Linked DNA regions of Homo sapiens. The protein of the gene in region 2 purifies or fractionates together with the protein of the main gene of each other region. This does not show direct contact. Each region holds a gene or a part of one and is shown on either strand. Other genes may lie near its edges.

The links.
Region 1: the proteins of NEK9 (region 2) and EML4 purify together in Homo sapiens (affinity purification with western blotting; 2 studies listed by BioGRID and IntAct, with this or other methods). This does not show direct contact.

Annotation. Positions count from the first base shown.
Region 1 is NC_000002.12:42,160,437-42,177,568, reverse strand, and holds the start of EML4 (echinoderm microtubule-associated protein-like 4), read right to left. Parts: upstream 8,217-17,132; 5' UTR 7,958-8,216; coding exon 7,933-7,957; intron 7,600-7,932; exon of another isoform or gene 7,338-7,599; intron 1-7,337. UniProt on the Homo sapiens protein: Essential for the formation and stability of microtubules (MTs). Required for the organization of the mitotic spindle and for the proper attachment of kinetochores to MTs. Promotes the recruitment of NUDC to the mitotic spindle for mitotic progression.
Region 2 is NC_000014.9:75,082,047-75,093,954, reverse strand, and holds part of NEK9 (serine/threonine-protein kinase Nek9), read left to right. Parts: intron 1-2,476; coding exon 2,477-2,685; intron 2,686-5,313; coding exon 5,314-5,475; intron 5,476-6,724; coding exon 6,725-6,937; intron 6,938-9,268; coding exon 9,269-9,391; 3' UTR 9,392-11,908.

The DNA.
Region 1 (17,132 bases), on a different chromosome or scaffold from region 2:
TCACTGCAACCTCCACCTCCCAGGCTCCAGCAATCCTCCCACCTCAGCCTCTCGAGTATCTGGGACCACAGGCGTGCACCACCATGCCTGGCTAATTTTTTTGTACTTTTGGTAGAGACGGGTTCTCACCATGTTGCCCAGGCTGGTCTCAAACTCCTGAGCTCAAGTGAGCCGCCCGCCTCAGCCTCCCAAACTGTTGGGATTACAGGCGTGAGCCATATTTAATTTTCAAAGTAATTTTACAATTTTTTATTCTGAGATTGTGTATTACAATCTTTTGGTCTTCAAATGTCATTTCTTTAAAAAAAAAAAGAGGTATGAAAGTGAAGGTTGTTAAGTTGTCAACTATATACTAGTCCCTAATTTATTTCCTCCACATTTTACTGGATCATGAAATCTCCACTGCAAGACTTCAAAGACACATGAGAGTTTCAGCCTTCAATAAAACCTTCAATACAGCCTTCAAGAGGTTTATAATTTGGCTTAGGCATGGTACCTGCAATCCCCCAGCACTCTGGGAGGCCTCAGCGGGCAGATCACTTGAGGTCAGGAGTTTGAGACAGGCCTGGCCAACATGGTGAAACCCGTCTCTACTAAAAATACAAAAATTAGCTGGGTGTGGTGGCATACACCTGTAACACCACCTAGTCGGAAGGCTGAGGCAGGAGAATTCCTTGAACCCAGGAGGCAGAGGTTGCAGTGAGCTGAGATCATACCACTGCACTCCAGCCTGGGCGACAAAGCAAAACTCTGTCTCATAAAAAAATAAATAAATAAAAATAAAACCAATTTGGCTCAGGGAAATAAGACATAACAATTGTAAGATCTGTAATAATTACTTTCACCTTATAACTATTGGAATAAACATTCTGCAATAAGTACCCCAAGAGTGGTCCTATCAAGTGTTCACGGAAGAATACTTTGGGCTGGGAATGAAAAGAAGTAAACATTTTTAGAAAGGAAATAATATTTGAGTTGAGCCTTGAAGGGTACTGAGAATAGTCATCAGGATGAAAAGATGAAAATGTGAGGAATAAGAAATAGGTCATTTTGGTCAGAACATGGTAAGACAGTAGAAAGAGATGACAGAGGACTTGAGAAGATGTTAAGAGGCTAAGATGTTTGAATGTAGTCATTAAAGCAATGAAGCAATCTGAGAGGGTGAATAGCACAATCAAAGCATGGCTTTAGGAAGATAAATCTGAGGGCCCTGTACAAAATAAACTGGACAGGTGGAGATTCTCGACGCCATGCAATAATCCACGCATCGAATAATAAGTACCTGAACTATAGCGGTGGAAAAGAAAAGGGATGAGAAAAGGTGACAAGAATTGACAAGTCTTAGAAGAGATTCTAATGCCCTAGGCAAAAATGGCAAAGAATCAAAACATGATTCTGAAATTTCAAACTGGGTGATACAGTCAGTGGGAAATAAGGAAAAGAAGCTGATTCAGGAGAGAAGTTCAGATTCAGGTATGTACCTGAGGGTTATAAAGAGTCAGTATTGGAGTAGAGAAAAGACCACTGGACTCCATCAGAAAAATCTGAGTTCAAGTGGGAAAAAAAAAAAAAGGTTAGGATCCAACGAAAAAAACAGAATGCAAAATTATGTCTGCAGTATGATTTTAACTATTAAAAAACTAAGCATAGGAAAAGACTAAGAACAAGTACATTAACATGTTAACATCAGCTGCATACAAATGGGCTAAAGATAATTTATTTTTCTATTCTTCTTTCCTTTCTATGGTGTTTTATTTAAAAATAATATGATGCTGGGCATGGTGACTCACACCTCTAATCCCAGCACTTTGGGAGGCTGAGGTGGATGGATCACTTGAGGACAGCAGTTCAAGACCAGCTTGGCCAATATGGCAAAACCTCTTCTCTATTAAAAATACAAAAATTAGCTGGGTGCGGTGGTGCACACCTGTCATCTCAGCTACTCGGGAGGCTGAGGCACAAGAATCGCTTGAATCCAGGAGGCAGAAGTTGCAGTGAGCCAAGACTGTGCCACTGTACTCCAGCCTGGGCGACAGAAACTCTGTCTCAAAAAAACAAAATAAAATAAAATAAAAATAATATAGATACAAACACTCCCAACCATACAAAAAAAGAAAAAACCTGGACTTAACCTTTTAAAAAAATAACACACTCTTGGCCAGGTGCGGTGGCTCACGTCTGTAATGCCAGCACTTTGGAAGGCCGAGGCAGGCGAATAACAAGGTCAGGCGATCACAACCATCCTGGCTAACACAGTGAAACCCCATCTCTACTAAAAATACAAAAAATTAGCCAGGTGTGGTGGTGAGTGCCTGTAGTCCCAGCTACTCGGGAGGCTTGAGGCAGGAGAATAGCTTGAACACGGGAGGCAGAGGCTGCAGTGAGCCAACATGGTGCCACTGCACTCCAGCCTGGGCAATAGAGCAAGACTCCGTCTCAAAAACAAACAAACAAACAAAAACACGGCCAGGCACGGTGGCTCACACCTGTAAGGGAGGCCAAGGTGGGTGGATCACACAAGGTCAGGAGTTCAAGACCAGCCTGGCCAAGATGGTGAAACCCCGTCTCTACTAAAAATACAAAAATTAGCCAGACATGCTGGCGGGCACCTGTAATCCCAGCTACTAGGGAGGCTGAGGCAGATAACTGCCTAAACCCGGGAGGCGGAGGCTGCAGTGAGCCGAGATCGCGCCATTGCACTCCAGCCTGGGCAACAGAGCAAGACTCTGTCTCAAAAAACAAACAAACAAAAAAAAACCACTTTCTAGACCTTTTTCACCTATAAAAGTATAATAATTTATCTCCCAAGGTTAGTATGCAAATTAAATGAGATAAAAGCTCTTTGTAAACTGTAAATAAGGAATGCTTTAAAATAATATTTAAAAATCATATACAGCATGCAAAATTAAGGTATTATAAAAGCCTAAGACAGCTAAAGGACAAGAGATCATATACCGACATACAAATATACTACAGGGTCAGGCACAGTGGCTCACACCTGTAATCCCAGAACTTTGGGAGGCCAAGGTGCGTGGCCATCACCCGAGGTCAGGGGTTTGAGACCAGCCTGGCCAACATAGTGAAAACCTGTCTCTACTAAAAATACAAAAATTAGCCAGGTGTGGTGGTACACAACTGTAATCCCAGCTACTCAGGAGGCTGAGGCAGGAGAATCGCTTGAACCCAGGAGGCAGAGGTTGCAGTGAGCTGAGATCGTGCCATTGTACTCCAGCCTGGGAGACAGAGCAAGACTCCGTCAGACACACACACACAAAGAAATATACTATAGATTTGGGAATCTTCCACACTGAGGTAATACTAGATGAAGTAGATTCTTTCCCTAAACTTTTTACAAGTATTAGAATCTATTTTAAAAATCAAAATATTTTTCTAAAATTTCTTATGAATATTGAAGTTTTACATGTTACAGAAATGGACTCCCACATACAAAATACAGTATTTTGCTACATGTTATTCCAACTTACACATAAGACAGAAAAAGACTCCCTAGAATTTAAACTGCTAAATTATTTCATTGTTTTAAAAAGCCAAGCTCTGCAGAGATAAATCTAGCAATCAACAAATGTTCTCTCAGAAGTTACTTGCTTGAAACATAGCACAGCATTCTAAATGGTGCTTCCTCCCTTCATCCCCATTTCTGGTACTTAGGCTTAATAATAAACATCTCTACATACAGTACATACTTTATTTATTTATTTATTTTTTAGAGGCAGAGGTTTGCTCTGTGGCCCAGTGGAGTGCAGTGGTACAATCATAGCTCACTGCAACCTTCAACTCCTGTGCTCAAGTGATCCTCCTGCCTCAGCCTCCCAAGTAGCTGGGGTTACAGGCACATGCCACTATGCCTATTTTTGTTTTTTTTGCAGAGACAGGGTCTTGCTATGTTGCCCAGGCTGGTCTCAAACTACTGGGCTCAATCGATCCTTCCACCTCAGCCTCCCAAAGTGCTGGGACTACAGGCGTGAGCCACTGCACCTAGTCATGGTACTTATTTAAAAACCAGGCAGTAAGCTCCTAAAGGGCAAAAAGCATGTCTTTTACTTGTCTTTCCCATAAGAACCACCAAGCATAGTGCTAGCCCATGTTCGATGTTAATCCATACATATGTTGAAAAACACTCTAGCTAACTCATGTTGAAGATGCTCTACTAACCATTTAAGAGTTACTACTCATGTCTGGTTACACAACTTGAGTCTATCTTGAACTCTTCAAGAGGCAACCAATAAAAAAAGTTTAAAAAAAAAACCTCTCCAAATATTACATGAAAAACATTTTCATGTAAATAAGGAATGCTTTAGATTAATATGTGAAAATCATATACAGCATTGTTCCTTTAAGAAAGCAAGACTATTATCTGTGATGAGAAATCACAGTTCTAACAATGTGATGTTAAAAAGACTAATTTCTGAATAGTCCATAAGTTGAAGCATACTGCTATACTTGTTCACATTTACAACCTGTACCCAGAATGTTGTTTCTTATAGATCCTAATCCAACAATTTCATTCACTATGATTTTTCTTAGGGGGAAGAAGATTTTAAGTTTTGTTGTTTAACTTTTGAGGCAGAAAAATTTAAAGCTGACTGGTTAGGTATAAGGTTTCTTTCAAGTGAAAACAGACTAATCTCTAGGTTAATTCCAAGATAAAAGTCTTAAAATTAAACCTCTATTATGAAAGAGATTCTAAAAAGATTAAGCATGAAATGCACCCAATCCCTGCCTTATAAAAAATCGGTAAAAGCTGTATGAATAGCTTCCCACTTTTGCACATAGACCTGAGATTTAATATACATACAGTATATACATTTTGCACATGGGTATCTATATGTAGTGATTTAGAGGCAACACATCAAGGTAATTGAGTACTTTTCTCTCCTAAGTTTAAAAAAAAAAAGGTTTCTAAAGTGCTGCCTTAAGTTACCATAATTTGTGGATTAAAAGATATATTAATAATACCTAAGGGAAATTCCAGAGTACAAGCACCTGCCAGCCAAGTTGCCTGAAATTCATCAGCTGCGGAGATTAAAAGAATTCTTCACTTGTTTTTTATGTAAAACAAAGATAACATAATCAGTACCATGTAACTTCAATGTGGCATTTATAAAATGGCCAATCACTTATCATTCCTATGATTTAAAAAACCACTACCTAGTCTTAATTGCCATTAGACATCTTATAAAATGCACATAACACAGTGGATTTCTTATCTAAACATGCAACAATCAAGGGTACAGTTTGAATTTTAAGTTTTCACTTCACAAAATGAGTCACCATAGGATTCTCTGAAATAATCTCTTCTCTAAAATTATTCTGTTTATAAAGTACTCAATTTTTCTGCTTATAAAAATGTAGTTTTTTCACCATTTTTCAAGAATCTATCTAATATGTAAAAGGAAATACACACATACTTCCTTGAGAATAAATGCTTTCAATAGTTGTAACCCCAGAAGAACTTCACGTTTTGACTTCTTGTTTAAAAAAAAAAAAAGTTTTTAAACACCTACTAGAGTAGAAGTGCTTGCCTTTATATTCATGGCTCTCCTGATGGTAAAATAAAGATCAATGTAACTCTAAGCTCTAGGCTAATTAACTGCAGAGAACAGAAACAAGCAATTTGGCAAGAGCTGAGCAAAGCTCCGCTTAAAGACTACCAGTAAAATATACCAGCACTACTCCTCCCCCACCCCTTTAAGGTTTCAATTAAGATGGGGCCTAGTTTTACTCTTGCAAGGGGGACAGAAAGAGAAAGCACAGAGCTCCCACTGAGAAGTATCTTCATCAAGAACAGCTCCAGAAATACTGCCAGGAACCATTTCCTTCCCTCTCTGCAGATGCAGGTTCCTCTGATAGGCATATCTCCTCTGCTCCTGATTAACACCATATCTAAAGGAAAGTCTCATCACATACCACCCAAAGCATGGCATCAAATGAATTTTTTAAATCCAACATTAGGGTCAACAATGACGCTCTTTATGAAAAGTGTGAGCCCCAACTGCAATTCATCTTCATCTCTCGGTCTTTTGTATCACTTGCCTCATAAACTGGTTAAGAAAGAAGAAAGCTATTACAAAGCATAATCAATGTTTGAAAATAAACATTAAGTGCCCCAACTGGTGAGAAAGACTCCTCCTAAACACTTACAGAAGATGAAGCTTTAACAAGCCCTCCAGAAATCTTTAGAGCCAACACGAAAGAAGTTAAAGTGATCTCACCACTCCTACAGGATGAGGACCCAATACAGTATAAAGATAGCACAGCTCTCCACAACATCCCCTAAGAAGACACTCAATTTTTACTTTAGTATAAGATCAGCCCTTCAGCGGACATATAGGACAAGTTTTTCGGTCCAACACTTACTGTGAATAAACCAACGCATGGAGCTAAAAAAGAACCAGGGAAAAATGGATGTCTCTCTAAAAAGAGCCCAACCTAAGTAAGGAATTACAAGACATCAAAGGTTAGATAATGGACAACAGGTGCCTTTGAGGAGGAAAGAGTAACACAACACTCAGTTGCCTCCTATTTTAGGATTTCCACTCTGAAAGCAATATAACGACAATTTTTTCTGCCCAAGAAAAAGGGAAGGCCAAAATTATAGGTTTTACTATTTAATATCTATAATAGGCCCATTGCTCTTTGACTTACTTTTTTACTTTAGATTTTAAAAATCCATCTCATCTCGATATTATCTGGATATAGTACGGCCTATGGCCAGACTGCTCACTGATCAGTGAACATTAACCAAGTAGAGACTTATTATCAAGAAATGTAAAAGAAAGGCGTCTGAATACAAGCTACCTGCACATAAAAAACTCAAAATACAGTTCCAGCAGTAGGTATCACACAACTGCGTTATCAGCCAAAGCTGAAACTGTTTCTCTCACCATTCTAACAGTTGAACTTAATCTTTTACTAGATTTCAATGGCCTCGAAGAATAGTAATTCCAGATTCAGCTTCTAGGGCAGCGAATACTAGCCTGGAGTTTTGATTTTCCTAGCCAGAAGATTACCTTCATCTGGTGAAAGGAACACTGAAAAGGCACTTCAGCCTATTTAATAACCTCTTCCCTTTCTCCATTCCACAAAGACAACATCTTCCAAAAATGGAGAATCCTTTCCTTCCCTGATAGAGGCCCCCTTTCCTATTGATTCATTGGGCAGAATCACTTCTCCCCAGCATGTATGCAGAACCAGAAAACACTTCTGCTTTCACTCTTAAAGAGGGTCCCCCAACACAGATGCACCTCTTCCTTTCCTGCATTAAGCAAATGATGCTCCGATGCTTCTAGGTCTCTCCACCACTGCAAAATGCTCAGAGAAGTGGAGGGATTGAAAAGGAAGTTGCCTACTACTCTGAAGGATACTGGAAAGTCGCCTTCAAATCTAAAGTGAAGACTTGGGGGCGGGGGATGCCCCCTTCCTGAAGAGGGAATGAGGGTCCCTCCCCTAAAAAGGAGCCTCTGTTCGGGTGAAGGCGATCCCCACCCTGAAAGAGAGGCGTGTATGTGGAAAGGTGGTGGAAGGTTGTACCCTGAAGAGGAGCCTGGATTTGAAGAAATGTCCCAACTCTGAAGGGGGGTAAGTGGAGGGAGCCGTGAGTGTACGGGGAGGGGTGTGCCAGCTATCGGGGGGCCTGAGAAGGAAGGGGTTCCCACTTTGGGGGAACGAGGGCCCCGCACTGAAAGGGGCTCCGGGAGGAAAGGAGGGTCTGACACAGAGGAGAGTTGGACATGGGGGAGGGGCCCTCAGTCCACCGGAGTCCGCGGAGGGGCGGCAGCCTCGAAGGGAACATGTGCAGTGGAGCCGCTGCCACCCCGAGGGGCAGGCGGGAGGGCAGGGCCTGGGCTGTGTGCGGAAGGAAAAAAGTTCCTACCCTTCGCAGAAGACGCAGGACTCCCCAGCCGTACTCACCGAGACTGCCGGCGAAACCGTCCATCTTGCGGGGAAAGCGCCGGGCTCCGGGCTTAGAGGGGCGGGCACTTCATTCAGCGGACCGACAGAGTGGCCGACGCTGAGCCTGACCCGCTCGTTCTCTAGGTCGCCCGGCTCGGCTACCGGCTCCCGCCTCCGTCGTCCGTCCGTTCGCCCTGGGGTAGTAAGCCGCGGCCGCCCGAACCACTTCCCCGTCACGTTGAGAGCCGCGCCGCTCAGCCGCCTGCCCGGCCTCCCTCCCAGGCAGCAGCCGCGAGCGCCGCGCCGCGCCGCGCCCCGCCCCGCCCCCGCGCCCGCGCGCAGCAGTAGCCCCGCCCCGCGCACGCCGTCACACTTCCGACTCCGCCTCCCACGTGACGCCACGGAGGCGGGGTCTTGCCAGCCCCGCCCTCTCACCTTGCCTCGGCCTCGGCGTTTGTCCGCCTCGCGCCAGGCTGGTGGTTGCGCCTGCGCGGTAGGCCTGCTGAAGGCTGGGGACCACGGTTTGGAAGCTGGTTCCAAACAGGTGGGGATAAGGCATAGACTCTGGCCTGCGATACTCTGATGCATGAAGGATCCTCTCCCTATGTGGCCCCTGGGAAGCCCGCAGAGCCAAGACTGGACCCCCGTGACGGGAGATGACCACCACGTGGGTCCTACAAGGACACTAAAGAAGCAACCAAGAGGGAGAGGTTCTCCCTCTCCCCCAATAGGGTGGGGGACAAATAGGGGCGAAGCTTCTTGACTAGCTCGATACCACCACTGCCACAGCCGCAGGGCCCGGGACAGATCAGAAGCAAGGAATTTTAGTGCTGGACATGACCCAAAAGTTCATCTTGTCTAACCCTTCTTATGAAGAAAAACACAGAGCCTTAGAGAGGACAACCTGCCCAAGGTCATCGAACCTAGTAGAAGCAAAAACTCAGCCTTCCTTACTCTCCCTAGCGTTCTGTCGTCTAGGGGTGCAAAACGACCATATATGGCAGGCTATAGGATGGCCTGCTAGGGAACCATAATAAGGGTTATTTCAAATGAAGTAACACTGAGTTCTAGGCCCAACTCCGTATGACTCAAGAGTGTCAAATCACCTAATTTATTTAGGCGTCACTTTATTCATTTGCAAATTGGTTGTCTGGACATGTAACCAAAACATGTAAATATACATAGCGTTCATATTCTTCCTCCCTTCCCCAACACGATTTCCCATACTTCTAAAGACTTTCTCATGGTTTGTCAAGTCCCTCCTGGGGCTCAGTTGTGCAGATTAGAGTAAGAGAGAGAAGAGCTGTAAGGTACTGAAGAACTGAATTGATCTATACATAATAAATTGATAAATACATAATAAAAAGCTGAGTTAGGGGAAAACAGAGTCCTACTACACAGAGTTGCAGGAGAGAGGGACAAACAAGAAGGGAGACAAGAAATATGTAATGATGAGAGAGACTTAGAGGAATTAAATGATTGAAAGGATTGTTAAACCTTCTTGGGGTATACGTCTCCCTTTGTTGCCTCTTTAAAAATCTTCCCTAAAAATGTAAATTACTTTGCATTTCTTATTTGGATATAAGACCTGTTTCTGAATACCATACTATATGGAGACTGGCCATAACGCAGCCAAGATAAATTCAGGTTACAGACTAAACGGTGTCTAAAATTTCCTTCTCTTCAAACTTAAATGATTTACCCAATGTTCCTTCTGCTATGGGCATTTTCATATGCATAAGTTTCTATTAAGCCTAAGTAAATGTTTGAGAAGTTCTCAATTCTGACAGCTGTTCCTTTGTGTCTTCAGGCCACACTCTCTGCCTTAGGTCGATTAAAAGAATAAGAACTTGGCATATTGGTATACATATGTTTTATGGTCCAGACCTGGAAGTGTGTACCTCCCTTTTGTCCACATTCCACTGGCCAGAACTTGGTCACATGACTGCAAGGGAGGCTAGGAATGTAGTCTGTGTATCCAGAAGGAAAAGAGACATATTTTGGTAACAGCTCTCTGGTTTCTGCCACACTCCCCTTCGTGGCATTCATCAGAGTTAAAATTTTTCATTTGCTTGAATGATTTATTCAATAAGCATCTCATTCATTATACTGTATACTACAAGGAAAGCTGTTAAAATGTAGGAGAGTTAGTACATCCCAGCAGTTAAGAGTGCAGACTCTGGAATCATGCTGCCCAGATTCACATCCCAACTCATCATGTACTAGCTATGAAACACTGGACAAATTACCTAACCTCTCTGTGCCTCCATTTTATTGACTGCAAAATGGAGATGATAACACTTCTACTTCTTAGAGTTTTTGAGAGGATGCTATGAGGTAATATATGTAAAGCACTTAAAACAGGGCACAATATGTTATAAGTGCTCAGTAGGTATTAGCTGCTCTTATTTTGTACCTGTTTTTGCTCTCTATTATATACTTAGTGCATATTACAGAACAGCTTTTTGATAAATATTTATTGAATAATGAACAAACATAGAAGAATTCTGAAAACTAGTCAATCTGAATACATTGTTTCAACAACCAGTGCCTGAGTGTTTTAAAGCAGCCAGAATTTTTGTTTTATATTTATCAAAGTACATCTTGCAATCTAAGCCTCTAATACTACTATGATAAAATAAAATTTAACATACATCTTTCAAAAGTGAAACCATAGCTGAACATTATCAAACACACACACAAATACTAAGGTTCTAAACAGTTACGAATTACTGGAGGGTTATTTTGGTTATTCACCTTAACAAAGGATTTATCTTTAGATTATTTTCAATGTGGAGTTCCATTGCCCCTTTGAGCTCCTTAAGTATAACTTAATTCAGGCAAATGCAAAATATGTGCCGTTTTTCAGGATCCCAGTTATTGGAAAAGGCTAAATATAGCTGTATCAAATAATGAAAACTTAGAACATTCCCTTTATGGTTTTGGTTTTTGAAACAGGGTCTCACTCTGTTGCCCAGGCTGGAGTGCAGTGGCACGATCTCAGCTCACGGCAACCTCCGCTTCCCCGGGTTCAAGCAATTAGCATGCCTCAGCCTCCCAAGTAGCTGGGATTACAGTTGTGCACCACCATGCCCAGCTAATTTTTGTATTTTTAGTAGAGACAGGGTTTGGCCATGTTGCCCAGGCTGGTCTCGAACTCCTCACCTCAAGTGATTCGCCTAGCCTTGGCCTCCTGAAGTGCTGGGATTACAGGCTTCAGCCACCATGCCTGGCCAGAACATTCTCTTTATACATCGAATCTTGACTCTGCATACTTACCTTCCCCTCTATGTCAAGGTTAGTATGTTGTGGGAGGAGTTTCAGAATACTTGTGAAGATACATTGTCAAAGTCTTGACCTAACGTTTGAAGAAAAATAAGATTCCTATTCAATTTCTTTGTTTTACTCTCACTAGCTAGATGATCTTGAAAAGTAACTATAAACTGTTTTTGTCTGCTTGCTTTTCTCTCCCGCAGACATTTTAAAATAAATGCCAAGGAAAATTAAGGGTTTTTTTTAAGTATGCTGTGTCTTCAGTTCCTTTTATTTCATTATTTGAATGTTATTTAAAAAATGAAACCCTATAGTCATGGAACTATATAGATTGTATAAACCTGTAGTCCATGTAAGCACAAATTTGATAGAAAAAAATCAGAGTTAATACCTGAGTGGGGGAAAAAAGGGATTCTTCATTTTTATAATATGTTTAATGTAAGCAGTGTGTAAAAGAATTCCAAAATCTATAAGAAGCTAAATGGCAATGTTATTCTAGCTTCTAACCATAAAGAATGCCTAGGGAGAACTTCAAAATTATTGCAAGAGAAATAAAAGGAGTTTGAGAGGAGATACCCCAAAGTGTCAAAAGTAGCTGCCTCTGAGAAATGAAATTAAGTGGAAGAAGGAAAGGGTAGAGGAGAGATATGGGGGATTTCACTTTTATTTTATTTTAATCATAGAAGTATTCATTTTTTGAAAACATTAAAATGCAAAAACAAAAAATATATTTCACTGCATATTTAGACACTCATAAACTGTGTCTGTAGAGACTGGTTTAAAATATCATACTTATTTAATAACTGTTTTACCAATCTTGGCATGATGGTTATCTCTCTCGTAAGACTTTCCAGACTTGCTGACTTCAGGAAAGAATCAAGCAATTAGTAGTGCTGTAAATTCTTGGTGAGAACTTATGAGACTGAAATCTATCCTGTGGGGATCACAAGCCATACCTCACTTGGAGGACCTGCTGCATAGATGCATGAGTGAGTGAACGAATGCCTATTGAGGTTAATTTTGGCATTTCTCATGGTGCCATCCATGACCTACAGAAAGAAGACAACTAGCCTTGCCTGCAGAGCTAAGTTTTCCCAATGCTAATTCAGAATTTATGCCATGAAATGAGATTTGAACTTGTTGAGATTGTGGAACAAACTTTAAAGTTTCTTTTTATGTGTTATAGCTTTACTACATTTACTGGATGTTGCGCAAGCCTTAGAGATAATAGCTAATAATTTTCATGTGTCCATCATAAATGTAAAATTTTTCTCCATGAAGAGTTCATAACAATCCCTTACAAAATTGATATTCTGCAGGGAAATACTTTTAAATAGAAATATTAGAGTGGAAAGCAGCCAATCAAGGAAATTCAATTCTCAAAATTAATAACACAGGAAGTTCTCTACTTGCAAATAAAATATTTCCAAAAGGTCATTTGTAAGTCAGCAGTTTGAAATTAGTAATAATGCCATAATTGGTGGTTAGATTGCCACTTAGCCCCAAAAACATGTAGCATGCTGATCCTAACCTGCCTGCGTTAAACCACACTGATGACAGCCTTACTTAAGGTTTTGAACCAGACAGGTCTGAAATTGAATATTGCCTATTATAAGCATCTGTGGGTTGATGTTGCAACCTAAATACAACATATAATACCGTTTCAACTTTCAAAGTTCTGACTTATGAAGGTCCTTAAGTGGTAGGTTTCATTATCCCCATTTTTCAGACAGGGAAAATGAGCCTCAAGAGTATAAAACTATAAAATGGGAAAATCAAGTTTTGAACCCATATCCATCTACATCTGAAAATCAAACTCTTCGCTGCACCAGTTTGCCTTTTGGGCTCAATGGGATTCTGTTGTGGAGATCCTTGAACACCAGACTGAGACGCCTATCAACAATGCAGTTTTAGCAGCAAAGTGATATGATCAAAGCATTGCTTTAGGAAGATTAAACCGGGTGGACACATTGGAAGAGGCACTGGAAGTGGGGAATCCAATTAGGAGACTTGCAGTGAAGCAGTAGCTGCAGAAAGCGCCAAGAAAAAAAAAATCTTGTGAAGGAAAACATGAATTAACAACAAACAAAACCCTCGCAGAGCTGGGTGGACTGATTGCCTCAGAAGCTAAGGAAGAGGAGGGAGTAAAACAGGTTATCCAGGTTCAGCTCCCAGTGATGGAGAGAATAATGGCAGCATTATATTAAAATGGGAACTTAAAGAAATGATGTGACTGGAGAAAAGAAAATACAGTGATGAATTAACCTTTGTGGGAAGCTGAAGGGAATCAGAGGTCATCTTTGACAGCTGGGGCCCAGGCACATGACCTAGGCCAAGTGAATGCCTCAACCCAGGTCTTTTAATGGCAGGGATGAGTTGGGGGGCAGTGATACAAAAACTAGCAGTCAGAGACCATGCTTGAAGATAGTTGAGAAATTGAAGAGCAACAGTGATGGTGTGCAGAGGTAGGAAGTAGGGCAGCCCACTCCAGGGCAGCGTCCTCACTAGAGTCCTAAAGAGTAAACTTGCCCATGCTCTCTGTGCCCTACACTGCCTGGGTTTCTGCCCATTTTCTGTGCCTGGCCCTCTGATCTTCCCATCGACTGAAGGAGCTACCTGATATCCTCCCAGCGAATTTGTTTTCTGCTTGAGTCAGCCAGAGTGGGTTTCTGTTGTTTGCAATAGAGAACTCTGAGTGGTACAAGTGCTGCGTTCAGTTTTAAACAGATTGTGCTTGGCGTCATAACCAGATGTCCAGATGGAAGCCTCCAGCACACAGTTTGAAATGTGGACTGTGGTTTAGGAGCGGGTTGGGTCTGGGAATATACACGCAGGAGACTTCTCAATAGAGCCGATGGTTTAAGCTATGAGAAATCTTAGAGGAAAAAGATTTAAGGGAAAAAATGGAAATGAGCAGAATGTAGAACTTGAGGGACCTCCAATATTTAGGAGGCAAGAGAAGGTGTCAGAGAAGAAACAATAACAGCAATAGAAGGCAAATCCTGCTAGTGCCCTATCACAGAACCAAAAGGAGCCAAAAGGTTGTTTTTTTTTTTTTTTTTTTTAATGATGGAAGTTGGAAGCTGTTAAATGCTACAGAGTCCAAGGAAGATGAGAAGTGAGGAACGGATACTAGATTTAGTGATTACGAGATCACTGGTCTTTAGAGAGTTGTTTATCTTGATGGTGGAGGAAAAAATCAAGTTGCAGGGGATTAAAGACTGAAAGGGGGGTCTGAAAGTGGAAAGAAAAAAATGCAGGCTACAGTTTAAAGGAATTTGGCAGGATTTTGTCTGTTTTGTTCACTGCTGAATTCCCAGCTCCTAGAAGAGCACCTGGCACATGGTAGGTGTTCAATAAATATTTGTTAAATGAATGAATAAAGAAGATCAGAAACAGAAAATTGAGCTGAAGTGTGATGAAGAGGAATATTTTATTTTATTTTATTTTATTTTATTTTATTTTATTTTATTTTATTTGAGACAGGGTCTCACTCTGTCACCCAGAATGGAGTACAGCATTATGATCTTGGCTCACTGCAGCCTCAACCTCCTGGGCTGAAGCGATCCTCATGCCTCAGCTTTCTGAGTTGCTGGGACTACAGGTGCACACCACCACACACGGCTAATTTTTGTGTGTGTGTGTGTGTGTGTGGTTTTGTTTTGTTTTGTTTTTGGTAGAGATGGGGTTTTGCCATGTTGCCCTGGCTGGTCTTGGACTCCTGGGCTCAAGCAATCCTCCTGCCTCAGCCTTCCAAAGGGATTGGATTACAGGCATGAGCCACCGTGCCCAGCCTAAAGAGGCAAATTTGTAGAATTGAGATTACCTCAGTATGCTTGCAAACAAGGGTTACCAAGTTCTCTCTCCCATCTCCATAGGCCAAAGAACCTGATTTCCTAGGCTTTTCTTGAGTTATCTATTGGATGCTCTTTCCTCACCCATATACTATCCTCATTACTCCATTATTCAGTTTGTCTGTATTGTAGGCTAATATAATACCAATTTCCTGGATAACAGTTTCTTATTCATCATGTCTTATTCTTCTTTGAAAAGTCTATTTTTTATACTACTTCATGTTCCACACAAAAATAAGTCAGATATTCCTCATCTATGTATATTTTATCCCAAACCACAGTTGAACCTCAGTGAGCTTTTAAGGATTTGATAAAACATTCTGATTAACCAGAAACAGGTGTATCATTAGATGACATCTCAATTGCACATTTTAAAAAAATCATTAGTTTGCGGTCCTTTACAACACAAACTTTATATCCAATAACCAAACGATCAAATGCAGTATCAAAACATTGTAAAGAAGCTATATAAAGACAAAAAGTTAAAATTGCCTCTGACTTAAGTAATAATAACAATAAAACCTAAGATTTTTTTTGTTTTACTTTAAACCCTTCTGTTTCCAAGTCTATGGACTTTTACTTAGAAGTCTATGAGTAAAAAAAACAAAAACAAAAACAAAAACCATGCATTTAAAAAATAAATTTTAACTAGAAATGTAAGAAGTCATAAGGGGTTTTCAAGTGCAATGAAATACTTGGACTACAACAATTAAGATTAAAGACATGGAAGTTTCCCAACCTGAGTTTATGGTCTTTGGTGGATGTAATTAAAGCACACAGAGCCTTTACAATGGGTGTAAGAAATTGTTTCTTTATTTTGCTTGCAGACTTTAGTAAGCAATCTTCTAGTGCCTGTCATAGGTTCATCAGAGCAATCAGCTGTGACTTTAGGGTTCTTTTGGTGTTACTGTATTAATTTGCATCTAGGCAGTCTGCAATTTTGGGGAGAAAAGAAATAGGAAAAAAAATAAAAAATGCATAATTGCTTTTGTGCATATTATTCCCTTTAGTTTCTTTTAGAATAATTATATGTGCCTATACATGCAAACAGAAGGCACATGTGTGCACATACATGAGTGTGTCTCCAGATACATGGTCAAAAAGCTTTTTGTATCATTCCTCACTCTCTTCTTAGGCTAAAACTTTGCTTGGCCCAAACTGAGTGTTTGATCAAGATGTGAATGGTCTGTAATAACAGAGCATGTCTAGTTGCATAAAGCCAATGATGCTCATCATCAAAGTCCTCCCAGTCAGAATAGGGACTTTTCCTTCTTGAGTACCTGGGAGACTTGCACTTAGCTGAATGACATTTTCAGATAAGGCTTCCCTTCCATTTAAACTGTGATGATTAAAGTTTCTAGAGGATCTGTTATAAAACTAAAATGAGTATAAGGTTACCTCAGAACTGAAACCTGAATTCAATTCCAAAATGTGACTTTGTTGTTGTTGTAGAGTTGGGGTCTCGATATGTTGCCAGGGCTGGTCTCAAACCCTGGCCTCAAGCAATCTTTCCACCTCAGCATCCCAGAGTTCTGGTATTACCGGTGTGAGCCACCATGCCCAGCCATGGTGGCATTTTTGCATCAGCCCATGAGGTGAGCCATGACCCAGGTCCAGAGAGTCCTTCATGTGAAATGGGCTGTCCTTACCCAAAAGTGAGAAAAGATTCCCGTGGAAGAGCCCAAGTTCCTCCCAGGGCCAAAATTGTGGGGGAAGCATCTTTCTGTTATTGCCAGCAGTTGCTGGTCTCAGTTATCCAGTATCCTGCATGCAACCAGGCTTATCAAGTTGGCCAGACCGCAGGTCAATAAATGTAGGCAAGGCCGGGCACAGTGGCTCACGCCTGTAATCCCAGCGCTTTGGGAGGCCAAGGTGGGTGGATCACCCGAGGTCAGGAGTTCGAGACCATCTTGGCTAACACAGTGAAACCCCGTCTCTACTAAAAATACAAAAAATTAGCCAGATGTGGTGGCACGTGCCTGTAGTCCCAGCTACTTGGGAGGCTGAGGCAGGAGAATGGCTTGAACTGGGGAGGTGGAGCTTGCAGTGAGCTGAGATCGTGCCACTGCACTCCAGCCTAGGCGACAGAGC
Region 2 (11,908 bases):
TATTTATCAATTTTATCTACTTCCCTAGAACAGTGCCTGGCAAATGGTAAATGCTCAGTAACTATTTGTTGATTAAATGCGTTATAACCATCCATTGGAGTGAAAGTGAACATCTCCAAATATTTCCATAATGTGAAATGTAAAAAGCAAGTTGCAGCAGACTACATGCCTTTTTATAAAGTTTAGAAACAAGTAAAATAGGCTGGGTGTGGTGGCTCACGCCTGTAACACCAGCACTTTGGGAGGCCAAGGCAGGCAGATCACAAGGTCAGGAGATTGAGAGTATCGTGGCCAACATGGTGAAACCCTGTCTCTACTAAAATACAAAAAAAAATTAGCCAGGCATGGTGGTGCACACCTGTAGTCCCAGCTACTTGGGAGGCTGAGGCAGGGGAATCACTTGAACCTGGGAGGCAGGGGTTGCAGTGAGCCACGATTGCGCCACTGTACAGCCAGCCTGGCGAAAGAGTGAGACTCCATCTCAAAAAAAATAAATAAAAGTAAAATGAATAGTAATGTATTATTTAAGGATACATAAAGGCGATAAAGTTTTTAAGAAGAAATGATAAATATAAAATTAAACAGAATGGTTTCATCTGGGTAGGAGGCCAGAGAAGGAAGGAATTCACACGGCAAATACAGTGATATAGGTAATGCTCTAGTTCAGCAGTGTCCAGTAGATCTTTTTGCAACAATGGAAATGTTCCATATCGGTGCTGTTCAGTATAGTAGCTACCAGCTTTCTGTGGCTATTGAGCACTCCAGAGAGTGGCTTGTGTGACTGAGGAACTGAATTTTTAATTCTCTTTAAGTTTAAGCGGGCACATATGGCTAGTAACTCATATTGGATAGTGCAATTCTAGTTCTAGTGGCAAATAGACCTATGTTTATTGTTAGGCATGAAAATTTACACGTATGTTAAAATAGTCTTAGGTATATCTAAAATGCAGCATAATCTTAAAAAGCCATTTAAAACAAAAAGTAAGCTTCAGAACTCACTTTGGTAACTATAGTTCTGCTGCTTCCGTAGGATCTCAGCATGACCCAGTTAGTCCCCAGGCCAGCACAGCAGGTGATAATTAACCCTTCTTTACATTTAGCCTCAGAAAATACCAGGCATCAGAACAAGGATCCCTGAGGAGTAAGAGAAAAAAAAAAAGAAAATACCAGGCAATTTTTCTTTAACTTTGACAGATTAATCTTCTTAATTATATTTTTATTTGGCCCATATTAAAATTCAGTTTCATTTCCTGACCACACATCAGCTAGTCTTCATTAAGGTTGCTTGGAATATGCTGTATGATATGAAAGAATCAGCCATTATATTATAAAAATGGATACAGATAGTCGTCAGAGAATGTAATATTCACATTAAATTTTGAAGAATTGGCCGGGCGCAGTGGCTGACGCCTGTAATCCCAGCACTTTGGGAGGCCGAGGCGGGTGGATCACTTGAGGTCAGGAATTCAAGGCCAGCCTGGCCAACATGGTGAAACCCTGTCTTTACTGAAAATACAAAAATTAGCCAGGCATGGTGGCGGGCACCTGTAATCCCAGCTACTCAGGAGGCTGAGGCACGAGAATCACTTGAAGCCAGGAGGCGGAGGTTGCAGTGAGCCAAGATCGTGCCACTGCACTCTAGCCTGGATGACAGAATGAAACTGTGCCTCAAAAAAAAAAAATTGCTGGGTGCAGTGGCTCACGCCTGTAATCCCAGCACTTTGGGAGGCCAAGGTAGGTGGATCACCTGAGTTCGAGACCAGCCTGGCCAACATAGTGAAACCCCGCCTCTACTAAAAATACAAAACTTAGCTGGGCATGGTGGTGTGTGCCTGTAATCCCAGCTACTCGGGAGGCTGAGACAGGAGAATTGCTTGAACCTGGGAGGCAGAGGTTGCAGTGAGCCAAGATCGGGCCACTGCACTCCAGCCTGAGCAACAGAAGCTAGACTCGGTCTCAAATAAAAAAAAAAAAGTTGAAGAATTCAACATTCAGATTTTCCCCGGACAGGGAGTTAATGGTAAGTTTATCTGGCAACTTTAAGAGGAGTTTGGCTCAAATATTAAAGACCTTTTTATATAAGATAAGTGTCTATGGAGGATGCTGGAATCTGAATGTATCTCTTAAAGAAGCAGAGTAAGCATGGGTGCTAGATTTGGTGGGCTGTGGTTGGGGGGATTGTTTGGTAATGCTTTTAGAATATTGATAACCTGCTATGGATACAAGATAAACAAAGTTGGTAAATGGAAGTGAATTATCATTATGAGCATCCTGATATACAAATACAACTATACAAAATTACAAAACATAGTTTGTATGAAAACCAAAAATTTAGTCCCTAACATTTGACTTGCACTGTTGCCATTGCACTTCATGCAGCTTATAGGCACCTTTCCAGGGTAAGTAGGGTTGTCAAATGGTAAATCTGTCTTGCTGCATAGCAAAGCTGTCTATTTCTGTGCTGTATATCTGTCAGTGTTTCAGAGCTCTAGCCCGGGAGGAGGCGGCGGGGGCGGCGGTGGTGAAGAAGAGGACAGTCAGCAGGAATCTGAAACTCCTGACCCAAGTGGAGGCTTCCGAGGAACAATGGAAGCAGACCGAGGAATGGAAGGTTTAATCAGTCCCACAGAGGCCATGGGGAACAGTAATGGGGCCAGCAGCTCCTGTCCTGGCTGGCTTCGAAAGGTAATTCCTTTGGAAGAAGTAACTTGGATAAAATATGTGGCCCTTTGCAGGAACTAGAAAGAGCTGTCAGGGTCTCTCAGTTTTCCAAGTACCTAGTAAACTGTTGTGCATCCTGAATCCAGCCTTCTGATTTCTACCTGGAAAGAAATTGCCTAATCACTAATCCTTTTTTCTTTCCAAAAAGATAAAAAATGTTCTCATACCCTTGTTACTTAAGTGAATGTATTATAAGTTACTATAACCTACCTTGATGGCAGTTTTTGTAGTACATGTATATAAAGATTAAGCTTACAGATTTTATACTGTCATTTATAGAAATGGAATATTGGAGCAGTTGGAATGCCTTACAATAGGAAAATGGTTGATGAAAGTTGAGATACAGAAAGTAAAAATGTTGGATTGGGCACAGTGGCTCATGCCTATAATTCCAGCACTTTGGGAGGCTGAGGCAGGAGGATCACTTGAGCCTAGGAGCTCAAGACCAGCTTGGGCAACACAGCAAGACCTTGTCTGTACCAAAAATTTAAAAAATTAGCCGGGTGTAGTAGTGTGCACCTATAGTTCCAGCTACTCAGGAGGCTGAGGCAGGATGATCACTTGAACCTGGGAAGTCGAGGCTGAAGTGAGCCGAGCTGTGCCATGATTGTACCACTGCAATCCAGCCTGGGTGACAAAGCAAAACCCTGTTCAAAAAAAAAAAAAAGTAAGAATGTTGAAGTATATTTATTTTCATGGAAAGTTACTCACAACATATGGCTATGCAGAAGAGGATGATATATCTGTATGATCTCATTCTTTTAGGAAATATGTAACACACAAAAGAATGTCAACAAGACTATGTATTGACAGTTTTTAAAGTGGTTGTCTGTAAGTGATGGAATTGCTGGTGAATTTTATTAGTTTCCTTTGCCCATTTGTATTTTCTCATTTTCTACAGTAAATATTTATGGTTTGTGAAATTTTAAATTTTTTACCAAAAAAAAAAAAAAAAAGACCGAGCATGATGGCTCCCAGCTGTAATTCCAGCACTTTGGGAGGCCAAGGCAGGAGGATTGCTTGAGCCCAGGAGTTTGAGACCAGCCTAGACAACATAGGGAGACCCCATCTCTATAAAAATTTAAAAAAAAATAAGGCCAGGGCCAGGCATGGTGGCTCACATCTGTAATCCCAGCTCTTTGGGAGGCCAAGGCGGGAGGATCACCTGAGGTCAGGAGTTTGAGAACAGCCTGGCCAATCATGGTGAAACCCCATCTCTACTAAAAATACAAAAATTAGCCGGGCAAGGTGGCTCACGCCTGTAATCCCAGCACTTTGGGAGGCTGAGGCGGGCGGATCACAAGGTCAAGAGATCAAGACCATCCTGGCCAACATGGTGAAACCCCATCTCTATTAAAAATACAAAAATTAGCCGGGCGTTGTGGCGCACGCCTGTAGTCCCAGCTGCTCAGGAGGCTGAGGCAGGAGAATCGCTTGAACCCAGGAGGTGGAGGTTGCAGTGAGCCGAGATTGCGCCACTGCACTTTGGCCTGGTGACAGAGCGAGACTCCGTCTCAAAAAAAAAAAAAAATTAGCTGGGCATGGTGGCACGCACCTGTAATCCCAGCTACCTGGGAGGCTGAGCCAGGAGAATCACTTGAGCCCAGGAGGCGAAGGTTGCAGTGAGCCGAGATCGCACCACTGCAGTCCAGCCTGGGCGACAGAGTGAGACTCCATCTCAAAAAATAAATAGATAAATAAATAAGGCTGGGCGAGGTGGCTCACACCTGTAATCCCAGCACTTTGGGAGGCCAAGGCGGGCAGATCACTTGAGGTCAGGAGTTTGAAACCAGCCTGGCCAACATGGTGAAACTCTGTCTCTACTAAAAATACAAAAAATTAGCCAGTTGTGGTGGTACACGCTTGTAATCCCAGCTACTTGGGAGGCTGAAGTAGGAGGACCACTTGAACCTGGGAGGTGAAGGTTGCAGTGAGCCGAGATTGTGCCACTGCACTTCAGCCTGGTGACAGAGTGAGATTCTGTCTCAAAAAAATAATAATTAGCCGGGCATGGTGGCACATGCCTGTGGTCCTAGCTACTCAGGAGGCTGATGTGGAAGGATTATTTGAGTCCCAAAGGTCAGGACTACAGTGAGTCATGGTTGTGCCACTGCACTCCAGCCTGGGCAACAGAGCAAGACCCTGTTTCAAAAAAAAAAATCTGTAGGTTTAAAGCTCCCTGTCTAATAAGACTAAACTTGCTAGTGATTTGAGGAGCGTGAACAGAGGAAGCAGCATGCTGTTCTGTCTGCACCTTTAGCCTCAGCTTTCAGCAGTGTTGCAGCCAGCCTCACTGACACTTCCTTGGAGCGCCCCAGCTCACTGAATAGCCTGTGTAGAATAAGCGTGTTGGAGTGACACACCAGAAACTCCAGCCTGTGTTCTTTGAGTTTGCCTTTGCATCACTGTTTCTCTGATGAAGGGGTGGCAGTTTTTTCACAGGTAGGCTGTGATATGTTGTTAACCACAACTGTCTTGCCCACTAGAGGGTGCTGAAGTCATGAGAGAGGGAAAACTATAGCAAAAAGAAGGGAATTTGGGAGGAAGCAAATACTGCAAACAGACTAATGAGATTCTTTCTCATATACATAGGAGCTGGAAAATGCAGAATTTATCCCCATGCCTGACAGCCCATCTCCTCTCAGTGCAGCGTTTTCAGAATCTGAGAAAGATACCCTGCCCTATGAAGAGCTGCAAGGACTCAAAGTGGCCTCTGAAGCTCCTTTGGAACACAAACCCCAAGTAGAAGCCTCGGTAACTGAGCTTTTTGCCTTTGAATCACAACTAGGTAAACAGTCACTGCAAGCTCTGCCTGGTTCTTCTGGCCTCGCTCTAGCTTTTGGGTTTCAGCTGCCCTGCATCAACTCATTATACTGTCTATTCAGCAGTACTTAAAGCCTCAACCCAAGACTAAACTGAGTTGCCTCAGAAAGGTATTTACCCTTCCACATTTCTGACAGGCTAACACCTTTCTAAAGGGATTGTCTTTTCCCTCTGCCTCAGAAATACCAAAATTCAAATTCAGTTTTTCATGACACTGGCAGGGTAGGTTAGAGGCTCTAAATATAAGAAAGAAGTAATACTGGTAGTCTAGTGAGGAAGCAACACATGTACACCTAACCTTGGTAAAAATGACATTGTGGTAAATACCTCAGTAAAACTATAATCCAAGGTCATGAAACTTTTTCTATAAAAGGCTACATAATTATTTTAGACTTTTCCTATTAAAGGCCACATAGTAATTATTTTAGACCATTTTAGACAGAAATGTGTACAGCCTCTTTTGCAACTACTCAACTCTGACATTGTAGCACAAAAAGCAGCTTCAAGTAATACATAATGAATGGGCATCCTTGTGTTCCAATAAAATTGTATTTACAAAAACAGGCAGTGGGCCAGAATTGGCCTATGGGCTATTTGTTGAACCCTCCTATAAAAAAAGTACAGTAGAAAAGAGAAAAATCCAGACTAGGATCATCAGAAAGCTTCCCAGAAGAGGTAATAATACCTTTGAAACTTCAAGGTGAATGTTTTAATTTCTCTGTCAGTTCACCTTCTTAAATTGTGTTGGTGGTCCTGTTTACTGACCACCTCTCAGATCTTTTCTAAAGTGTGATTCACTGCATATCATGAATATTGACCCTTTGGGTCTGTGATCTGAAAGACTTGTTCCAAACCAAATCATGCTTTTCCCTACTTCAGCATTTTAAATGAGAAGATACCAAGGTGCTTTAAAATTTTTCACAAAGTCCTCCAAAATAGATGATTGGTCTCCCACCTTGGCCTAATGGGGACTGAGGCAGAGAGTTCACTTTCCATGTTATGTCAGTGCCCATCGCTGTTATAATCCTAGCATTTCTGTTTCTCGTACATATATTCATGTGTATATATGATTTATCTTGTTAATTTAAAAGTAAAATCCGATTGCACTTAGAGGAAGTTTGGATTGAGGAGCTATGACACCTGGGCAGAACCTCCTGCAATCTCCTTCTTGTCTCTCTAGTCACCTCGGCTGAATCCTGCAGTAACCTGTGCTGGGAAGGGAACACCACTGACTCCTCCTGCGTGTGCGTGCAGCTCTCTGCAGGTGGAGGTTGAGAGATTGCAGGGTCTGGTGTTAAAGTGTCTGGCTGAACAACAGAAGCTACAGCAAGAAAACCTCCAGATTTTTACCCAACTGCAGAAGTTGAACAAGAAATTAGAAGGAGGGCAGCAGGTGAGAGCATTAAAAGAATAATCCAATTTCTAAGCCTGTTTTGAAGAATCACAGAAACAAAACACAAAGTACTGAAATAGACTTGTTCCTTTGCAGGTCCTTACTTTTTTTTTGAGACGGAGTCTCGCTCTGTTGCCAGGCCAGAGTGCAGTGGTGCTATCTTGGCTTACTGCAACCTCCGCCTCCCGGATTCAAGCAATTCTCCTGCCTCAGCCTCCCGAGTAGCTGGGACTACAGGTGTGCACCACCATGCCCGGCTAATTTTGGTATTTTTAGTAGAGACAGGGTTTCACCGTGTTGGCCAGGATGGTCTCGATCACTTGACTTCATGATCCACCCGCCTCAGCCTCCCAAAGTGCTGGGATTACAGGTGTGAGCCACCACGCCTGGCCGATCCTTAGTTTTTAATGATACCATTTTTGTAATTATAATCCCAGAAGCCTTGGGCCTTGTTCAGGCACCTAGATTGAATCATTTTCATCACTTGCATTGCTTTTTCTTAGTGTATGTTTTTTCTTTTACAATACTTAATTACATACCTCTGAAAATAGACATTCTCCTGAACAACCACAATACTATAACCACACCTAAAAAAATTAATACTAGTATTGTCAATTCTCATCTAGTATCCAGCTGATACCTCAATTTTCCCAGTTTTCCCCCACAAAAATGTCCTTTATAACCATTTTTTATCAGACTAGAATCCAGTCAAGAATCCCACATTATATGTATGTCTCATTTCTTTTCATCTAAAACAGCTCCCTCCACCACCATCACCTTTTTTAAATTATTTTATTTTTATTTTTATTTTTATTTTTATTTTTATTTTTTGAGACAGTCTCACTCTGTTGCCCAGGCTGGAGTGCAGTGGCGTGATCTCGGCTTACTGCAACCTCCACCGCCCGGGTTCAAGTGATTCTTCTGCCTCAGCCTCCCGAGTAGCTGGGACTATAGACGCTTACCACCATGCCCAGCCAATTTTTGTATTTTTAGTAGAGATGGGATTTCACCATATTGGCCAGGCTGGTGTCAAACTCCTGACCTCGTGATCCACCTGCCTCGGCCTCCCAGAGTGCTAGGATTACAGGTGTGAGCCACTGCGCCAGGCCTTATTTATGTATTTATTTTGAGACAGGGTCTTGCATTGTCACCAAGGCTGGAGTGCAGTGGCACAAACATGGATCACTGCAGCCTTGACTTCCTAAGCTCAAGTGATTCTCTGACCTCAGCCCCCCAAGTAGCTGGAACTACAGGCATGTTCCACCATGCTCTGCTTCACCTTTTAAAAAAATACTTTTATGACATTGACTTGTTGAAGAAACCAGGGCAGTTGTTCAACAGAATGTCCCACATTCTAGATTTGTCTTGTTTTCTCAGGGTGTTGTCTAACTTGTTTTTCTGTCACCCTGTCTTTTCTGAAAACTGGAAGTTTAACCTAAGGCTTGATTAGATTCACATTAAACATTTTTAGTGAAAATACTTCAAAGGTGATGCTGCTTGCATTATTTTTCGAGAGCCATGCTATTGTTTTATATAGAGGGAAGTAGAAGCAGAGAAATAGGGTTAGGCCCTTGGCTTTGCCATTTGCCAGCTGTAGGTGTTTGGGCTACTTTGTTTTCTCTGAGCCCTGGTTTCTCACCTGAAAGAAAATAATAGACACCTTGTATGGTTCTTTGGAGGATTAAATGAACTAATGTTTATGAAATTACTTTAGAAAATAATATACAGGCTGAGCACGGTGGCTCACACCTGTAATCCCAGCACTTTGGGAGATTGCTTGAGCCCAGGAGTTCAAGACCAGCCTGGGCAACCTGGTGAAACCCCATCTCTACCAAAAATAAAAACTAACTGGGCATGATGGCACACGCCTATAGTCCCAGTTATTCAGGAGGCTGAGGTGGGAAGATCACCTGAATCTGGGGAGGTCAAGGCTGCAGTGATCCGTGATCACACCACTGCACTTCGGCGTAAGCAACAGAGCAAGACCCTGTCTCAAAAACACACACACACACAAGGTAAGATTGGCAGCTATAGCAGGGAGAAGATTGTTTTGCCCAGGACTTTTTCCATTTTAAAACTAAGAGTTCTGCATCCCAGGAAACCCCGCAGTCCTGGACAAACCTGGATAGTTGGTCACCCTACCTGCAGTAAATATAAAGGTATGGACTGTATCTAAAATAGTGCCATGAGCGTCTCACAAGATCGTGGCTACAAATCCTTAGCCACGCCTTAGCCAATGCCTTAGAAGTTGGCATTGAAAATATAGTACTGAACTACTTCTGTGACTAGGTGGCACTGTTGCTAATGTGGAACCGTGTTTTATCCGGACAGGTGGGGATGCATTCCAAAGGAACTCAGACAGCAAAGGAAGAGATGGAAATGGATCCAAAGCCTGACTTAGATTCAGATTCCTGGTGCCTCCTGGGAACAGACTCCTGTAGACCCAGCCTCTAGTCTCCTGAGCCTGTAGAGCCCCCAGGAGACTGGGACCCAAAGAACTTCACAGCACACTTACCGAATGCAGAGAGCAGCTTTCCTGGCTTTGTTCACTTGCAGAAAAGGAGCGCAAGGCAGAGGCTCTGAAGCACTTTCCTTGTACATTTGGAGAGTGGCATTGCCTTTTAGATAGGATCTAGGAGTGATTTTATTGTTTTGGAGAATGGAAGGGCCCCCATGGCCCTGGCTTTGTCATCAGTGACTGCCATAGCAACAGCAGCTCTGTACCTCATCTGTTGATCCCACCTTTGAAGAGGAGACACAGTGCTCACCTTAATTGCGCTGGTAGCAGCTTATATCCCATGTATCATTTTCACCATTGATTGGAAGCTGCCTTGGGAATTCAGTACCAGGCATTACCCCTCTGGGTGGGAGAGGGAGAAGTGTAAAGTTGGAGTGGGCTGGAATCAGGTGTGGCCCGCCCAGTGTCCTCTGCAGAGTGGTGAAGTAGTCTGGCCCTCTTGGGAGCCCTGAGTCCAGGAAAATATGTCTGATGGAGTCAATCTAGGGCTTGTTTCGAAAAAGTTCAGTTACTCTGTGCAGCTAAATGCTTTAGGAGGAAAGGTAGGCTTAGGTTGCTTTTCCTCTGAGGGTTGATTGAAATTTCTTCAGTGAGGAATAGAGAAAGGGCAGGACCCTCCTCATCACACAGCTGGTGTTTCAGGCTGTGACCAATGCAGGGTGGGATTTCCTAACTGTGGATGAGGGGATGAGGTGTCTCTGAGGGATGAGGTGTCTCAGAGAATTGAGTCCATGGGGCAGTCAGAATAGCCTTAAGAGAAAATCATGAAGGAGAAGAGGTCCTCCTTTAGCTGCCTCTACTTGGTATCTTAGAGAGGGCTTAGAGGGCTCTCAGTCTTCTGCCCATGAAAAGACTTCTTTGAGCCTCTGCCTTCATGGCTCTTAGGGTTCTGATCTTGATATCAGCAGCCCCAACCACTTTCTTTCTGAATGTCTAGTCAGTATTTTTCCCCTTTTGGTGTTTTATGAAGCCATGTGGTAACGAATGAATCTGTATCATTTTTCCTACCTGAGTGGCCCAAAGCCAGCACCAAACCCTGGGAGTCCCTGAAGCCTAACAGAACAGGTAGAACTTGCAAAAGGAATTTGGCTGAGAGCTCACTTCTAATCCTGTACTCACTGTGTCTTTGTAGATAGAAACAAGCTAGCTTTACCAAAGAGAAATAGTGTCATAGAAGAACAAAACTTCATATAGAAAGTTCTAGGCAAGTATTTGATGGTTTCCTTAAGGATGTGAGCTTTGTATTTCCACCTAGCCTTGTAAAATGTTCCTGTGGTATTTTGTGTCACACATCCTACCTTTGATGAGTCTCACATCCCACCTTCCTATAAACAGCTAAATTAATTTTGTTTCATCTTCCCCAGACCAAAATGTTTGATAATCTTATCAACATTGTGGGAGGTCTTGTGCAATGGAAATTTTGCCATTTCTCCAAAACTGGTGGCATAAAGGCTGATGCTTGGGGAGAACCCCATTGCTCGGGACAGGCAACTCTGTTCAATGGGATCTTCTTTGGTTTGATGTTCCCATTGTTTTCTCAGTTCTGGGAAGCCTAGTACATTAGTACTAATGTAATCACTGAAACCTTTTCTTGAAATAAGGGAAGCAGCCAAACTTTGATTAAAGTTGCAAGTTCTGGGGACTTGCGGGGGTTGTCATAAACTGTAACAGTGGGTTTTGGTTCAGCATGTAAATGCAACTTTGATTTTCTTGAGGACCGATTGACCTGTCATGTCCCTGTATCCTCATGCTCATCATCTCAGCAGGCCTGAGAGGCTGGGTCAGTTTGGGTGTTCATCATGAGGATTGCTTCTGCCATGGAGCTGATGGACATGGGCAGGTTGCTGAGAAGGTGGGGTGAAAGTGAGTGCCGGGGGTGGGTGAGTGCCCTGGTCTTGTTCATAGGGGAGCCTTTCCCTAGCAGTGGAACGCTGTGGTCATTTTCTCTAGCATATTCCCTTGGGAAGTCTAGATTTGCTATTAATCTGGCTGAGAATCTAAGTTCTGTGCCTTAGAGACAGTTTGCACTTTCCCATATTGTGCCTGGGACAGCCATATGATTTTTTTTCCCACCAAACAAGTATGCAAACAGAAACCAGTTCAAAGGGGGATGGAGTAAAAGATGAGGCAGTAGAAATGCCTTTGAATGGTTTTCTGTAGCTAATTCTCTTTAAATTTTGTCCTGCTTTTTTTCTTTATGCAGTGCTAGGTGTTTTAAGTTTTCTAGTAGTATTGCTTTTGAGTTACAGTATAACCTGAGTTACTCCTCTGCTCTAACATTGTTGCAGAAGAACTAGTTTATTGTTAGCCAGGTTGCTTGAAAGGTTGAGAGTGGAGTGGTTTGGCATTTCTGTTTTAAATAAACATTTAAGCTCTTAATCAGTACTGTGCTTCAGTAAGCCTGTGCATGGACCTTAGTCTCTGGGGATAAAACATCCAGATTCTAAGCCTCC